2 separate regions of the Homo sapiens genome follow, and region 1 is linked to region 2. The links come from fine-mapping of genetic effects on gene expression. A gene starts in region 2. The other region holds a variant in brackets. All regions are shown on one strand. Distances are between the middles of the regions.

Region 1 (2,905 bases), 23 kb after region 2:
TGGATGGCTGTTAGGCTAACAGTGTTATTATGTGAATAGTATGTGTGTTGTAAATTCTAAGGCCCGTGGTTTTCATTCCTATTTTCTCCTTGATTGTGACATAAGCACATTTGGAGTTTTCAAACTAGCTGGATTTATTGCCCAGCTGACTACGGCTTTCCTTGATGTCAGAATGAGGCCACCTTTGGCCCACTTTGAACCAGCTGAGAGAGTCCTGTGGGGTTTACACAGAGCCCACCCCTCCCTCCAGTGTCCACATCATCCTCATGACCGTGATGCACTCCTGGTGGCCTCCTGAGGCCATGGGTAGTCAATACCTATGTCTCATAGTGGACCTGCCATTTCATTCCAAGCTCTTGGTGAAATGTTTGTAGGGAAAACAATGCGTTCTTGTGGGCTCTCCTTGACACTAATAACCATGGATGAAGAGAACCTCTAGAGCACATAATGACTGAAACCCATGCTCAATGAAGAGAACTGCTTGGGATGGCTTTCAGCTCATCTTGTGTCTGCCAGGACCTTCCCAAACACTGCCTCCAGCCCACCACCAAACAGGCTGTGTGTTAAATCACACCTTTTCCTGTTAAAATCAACCAATGACATTGAGGCTGGGTACAGTGGCTCATGCCTGTATTCCCAGCCCTTTGGAAGGCTGAGGTGGGTGGATCACTTGAGTCCAGGAGTTGGAGACCAGCTTGGCCAACATGGCGAAACCCCATCTCTACAAAATACAAAAAAAATTAGTGGGGTGTGGTGGTGTATGCCTGTAGTAGTCCTAGCTACTCAGGAGGCTGAAGTGGGAGGATCACTTGAGCCCAGGGAGGTTGAGGCTGCAGTGAGCTGTGATTGAGCTCCCACTGGCGGTTCCAACCGGTGCCTGTGGCTTTCCATCCCAAAGCAAAAGCCCCACCCATTTCTGCTATGGGGTTGACACCTTGCCCGTAGCTCCCTGATCTTTGGGGATTTTGGAAATCCCCAGCACTGCCTTTCCTGTGCTTTTAAATGTATGCAAATGCAATAGCAAATGGCCCTCACCCCAGGAGGACAGCTATTCATGGGGCCCCTCCCTGCCCACACCGGGTGGCTCCATGGGGTCTTGTTAAACCTTCTCAGAGGTTGGCAGAAGACTCCTTTTAGCCTTGTCCCTTTCTTCTTGCCTCTGGGTCTCTCTTCCTGGGGACTTTCTTCACCCTGCCTTCGTCTTTCTTCTGCCACTTTGCTGCTTTGCCCTGACCGCTCTGTCCTCCTTTTTCCAGTCCCTGTGC[G/A]TCTCTCCTCTTCCTGCTGGCTTTCCTCTCCCTGCCCCTCTTCCCCCTCTCTTTCTGTCTACGTTGAGGAGGTGTCATCCTCTGTTCTCTCTGCTCTTTCTTGGCTGTGCTGCTTCTTCCTCCCTCCTAAGATCACCTATCCCGCCGAGCCCCTGCCCTGCTGGGGCCTGAAGTGAAGAGGGCTCTTCCCTCAAATTCCCTAGAGCTGAGGGGCAGGGCCAGCATCTCAGGCTGGCGACCAGTGCAGCCACACAGGGCTCAGAAGGCCTGTGCTTTGTTTAACACTTGGCAGTTGCTGTCCTGAATTCTCAGTAATTTTTGAATAAGGGGCTGCATTTTCATTTTGCAGTGACTCCATGAAGTATGCACTGTTTCTGCTGAGGATTATGAACTTCCTGGGGGGAACACATCCCCTCCTCTTAGAGCTGTAAGAGCTGGGCTGAGGCGCAGGGTCCAAGTGCTGGTCCTGCGTCTGCTCCTCACTCACCCAACAGTAAGCAGCAAGATTCATCTTCATTTTACCAATGAGATAAATCAAGGCTCAGAGAGGCCATGTCACTTGCCCAGGGACCCACAGCTCATGAGCCCGGATTGAAGGAAGCTGACTCTGAAATTTGGACATTCTGTGGTCCTTTCCTGGCTGAAACCATAGGGGCTTTGGTAAGCCACCCTTTTATCAGTGAACTAAGGCTCAGTCTTTGCATCTGGAAAATAGAGGTAGTGAAAGTAGCCATCTGTGCAGAACCAGCTGGTGTTTAAATCCTGGAAAGTTCCTGGCACATGGCTACCTCCTGAAACAGCAGCCACAGCCTTTCTGAGCCTCCATTTTCTCATCTGTCAAATGGGGATCATGGTGGTACCTGCCTCACAGGACCCTTATGGGAATTTAATGACACAGGACGTGTGCTTAGCTTAGGGCCTGGCACAAGTAGGTGGGCAAGGCTAGTACACAGGAGCTTCTAGGCCAGAGGAGGGAGTAATCTATGAGTAGGGAAACTGTAGGATTTATTGTCCTGACTGGGGCACTTTGAGAATGAAAGGAACATGACAAGAAGCATAAACAGGGATTGTTGTGGGCAAGCCAGGATGGAGGGTCACTCTACCTGTGTATCAAGTATGTCTTTGTCATGATTGTCTGTTTCATAAAATATGTTCACAGATAGGTGAGTATAAGGATGCCCCAGGCCCACCCCCAGCTGGTGTGGAGAAAGACTGTGTTTGGGCTGGGTGCAGTGGCTCACACCTGTAATCCCAGCACTTTGGGAGGCCGAGGCAGGTGGATCACCTGAGACCAGCCTGACCAACATGGAGAAACCCCATCACTGCTAAAAATACAAAATCAGCCAGGTGTGGTGGCGCATGCCTGTAATCTCAGCTACTTGGGAGGCTGAAGCAGGAGAATCGATTGAACCTGGGAGGTGGATATTGCGGTGAGCTGAGATTGCGCCATTGCACTCCAGCCTGGGCAACAAGAGCAAAACTCCGTCTCAAAAAAAAAAAAAAAAAAAACAAGGCTGTGTTCGAGCCTGGGCCATAGAGAATGATGTCCCTCGGGCTGGGCATGATGGAACATGATGGTAAGCCCAGCACTTTGGGAAGCAAAGTGGGAGGATAGCTTGAGGCCAGAAATTCAAGACCAG
Region 2 (2,905 bases):
GACAGTTGGGTAGACTGGGCCTGACTTCTGACTATAGAGACCTGTGTGACCTCAGGCAAGAGACTCAATCTCTCTGGGCTTCAAGTTATCTGTGAAATGGAAGAATGAAATTAGATGGTTTCTAAGTGTAAAGCTCACTGAATTAAAGGATTGAGGATGGTGGGGAGAGGTCGGTGGGGTTCTAAGGCTGATCAGACGATGAGGACATAGTCCTCCACCTGCCCAAGACTTTGAGGCCCAAAACACAGGTTTCTCTCCTTCTCTCCCTCCCTCCCCATCTCCCTCTCCCTTCACCTTCCCCTCCTCCCCATTACCTTCCTCCCTGCCCTCCCTTTTCTTCCTTTCTTTCTTCTCCTCCCTTCCCCTCTCTTCCCCTCCCCTGCCCTTCCCTTTTCTTTTTCTTTCTAAAAATATTATTTTAGGCAGTCGTAGGCAGTCTTGGCTTTGGAATCAGACAGACTCAGATCCAGCCATGGCTCGGTCAGCATGAGCTTGGCGCCCTGGGCAAAACGACTTCTGCTCTGTGGCCCTAGCATCCTCATGTGTAGAATGGGCAAGTGATGCCCCCCCGACGTGGGTGGTGGTTCACACGGCTTACTCCATGGAAGCACTTGGCACAGGGGCCCACATGGGCACTTCTGTTATTTCTTCAGTCTGGAGGCCAAGGGTGGGCCTCCGAGCCAGACAACATAGTTGGAATCCCAGCTCTGTCAGCTGCTGGCGGTGTGGTCTTGAGCAAGTGACTTAATCTCTCTGTACCCCAGTTTCCTTATTGGTAAGACTGGAGTAGTAATAATTCCTGTTATCTAGGGTTGCCGTGAAGAGTAAGTACGCATCGCCTAGCACGCTGCCTGGCTGTCGGTTGTTTTGATTATTCCACTAATGATGGTGACCACACAGCCGATGAACCAGGCACTTAGCGCCTGGTTAGGGCAGGGAACAGAATACAGTTCTTTCCCTACAGAGTTCCTGGTGCAAGGAGTTCTCGGTGCAAGGAGAGAGACATCTTAACAGGCAAGGACAGCACTGCATCAGTGAGGTGATGGGGTGACCCTGAGGGGCACAGCAGCCCCCGAGGGTTGGGGAAGGCTTCCCTGGGAGGTGACCTTCAACCTGAGACCTGAAGAGGCAGTAGGAGACCATCGGGCCACGAATTAGGGCAGGAATAGCATCCAGGTGGGAGGAACAGCGTTGCAAAGGCCCAGGGTGAGAGGCAGCCAATCTCTCGGTCAGTGTGGAGCTTGAGCCCCTCACCGGGAGCAGAGGCGCTTGCACTTCCCCCAGCAGCCGGGTGCTCAGATGTGCTCCCTGTTTGCGCTCAGTGGGCACGGCTCCCCGGCTGCAAGAGGCTGCCAGAGGGGCGGGTCGTCCCCAGCGGGCCCCCGCCGCCACCCACAAGCCCAGTCCCCGGCTGGTAGGGGCACCCTCCCCTCGCAGCCCCCTCTCCACGCAGCTAGCCGCCCCCGCCCTAGGTCAGCCCAGTTTCCTGCCCCTCCCTCCTGCTCTCCTCCCTCCAGCTGTTTCTCTGGCTGAGTTCTGTCCCAGTCCCATTCAGGGAAGCAGCCCCGGCGGCCAGCAGGGAGCTCAGGACAGAGCAGGCTCCCTGGGAAGCCTCCGGGTGATAGGGGTGTTCCAGCTGCGGCGCTCTGGGGGTTCAGAGGGGGATCTTGAATGAACAAATGAATGAACTGCTTTCTGGGCAAACAGCCACAGCCAGAGGAGCCTGTGATTGGCAGAAAGAAGCCAGGGTGTGCAAGTCTCCCCAACAGCCTCGAGTGGCCTGCAGTCACAGGGAACCCTCAGGAAGACCTTCCGGGCAGAGACCAGAGGGAAGGTATCATCACACACTTGCCTTGGGTGTCTTCTGAGGGGGGCCAGGGAAGGGGAATGAATACTAACAGAGAGAAAAGTTTGTTTCTTTTTATAATTTCATATTTGTTAAAAGGAAGAGTTTTGTTATTATTTTCAGATGTCAAAAGTAATGCATGTTCATTGTTTAAAGAAATAGCAAGGATACACAACTAAATATATGAATGTGGATTTCCACATCTAGTTTGGTAACCTGCTTAACCACAGATTGTGAACTTTTTTCCATATCACCTATATTCTTCCAATATACATTTTTCATGGCTGCATAGAAAGGCTATCTTAAGATTATTTGACTTTTCCATAATAGATTTGCTTCTTTTTTTTTATTAGAACAGTGCTGCAATGAATATTTAGTATGACATCTTTGTGTGTGTGTCTTATGAATACCTTTTAGAAATTGCTAGATTTAAGGTTTGCCTATTTTTAAGACTTCTGAGCTTTTGGTCACACTGCACCCTGGAAGGCCGTGGCAGCTTGACCTCTCTACGATGTTATACCAGGGCACAGTATTCTCACATACTAAACCCACCTTGTTGCTACCCATCCCTTAAACTTTCCCTGATGTGAAGTCGAGAATAATATCTAGATGCTTCAATAGGCATTTCATTTCTTTGTTAGTGTTGATTCTCTTTTATAAACTTATTTTTCACATTTCTAGTCTGACTCTCCTGTTCAAGTCTGTTCCCATTTTTTTCTCCTCTGGGGGCATGTTTATCTTTTTCCAATTGATATCTAAGGGTTCTTTGTATATAAAGGACACAAAACCTTTGCCGGCACTCTCTGTTGAAAATATTCCACTCCCTCCTCTGTCTTCAGAATAGCCCATTTTAAATGGGCAAGCCAGCTTTGGCAAAATTATAAGCATTACAACATCAGGGAACTACTACTTGATATAAGCCCAATCACTCAGACCTGTGCGGTTCAGAGATGCCAGATCACTGGTCTGAGGTCACACGCCTGAACGTCCAGGTTCTGAGTCTTTCTTTTTCTATTAGGGAAAGCCCTCAACTTCCCTTTTGCATCCCCTACCTCCTTC

What was found. PIP is the estimated chance that this variant, and not a neighbour inherited with it, causes the effect.
Region 1: its variant is fine-mapped to the expression of CMKLR1 in whole blood (INTERVAL, PIP above 0.99).

Annotation. Positions count from the first base shown.
Region 1 is chr12:108,314,804-108,317,708 of GRCh38, reverse strand. The region is part of intron 2 of CMKLR1 (chemerin chemokine-like receptor 1); the gene reads left to right. Among named protein-coding and RNA genes, the nearest start is that of CMKLR1, 23 kb to the left of the region's middle. RefSeq lists an enhancer at 649-1,167 and silencers at 883-1,177, 1,283-1,577. The variant G/A (reference allele first, on the strand shown) is at 1,266.
Region 2 is chr12:108,337,956-108,340,860 of GRCh38, reverse strand. CMKLR1 (chemerin chemokine-like receptor 1) reads left to right here and starts at 1,550. Exons shown (of 4, transcript NM_001142343.2): 1 at 1,550-1,834. RefSeq lists a silencer at 1,267-1,386 and an enhancer at 1,494-2,117.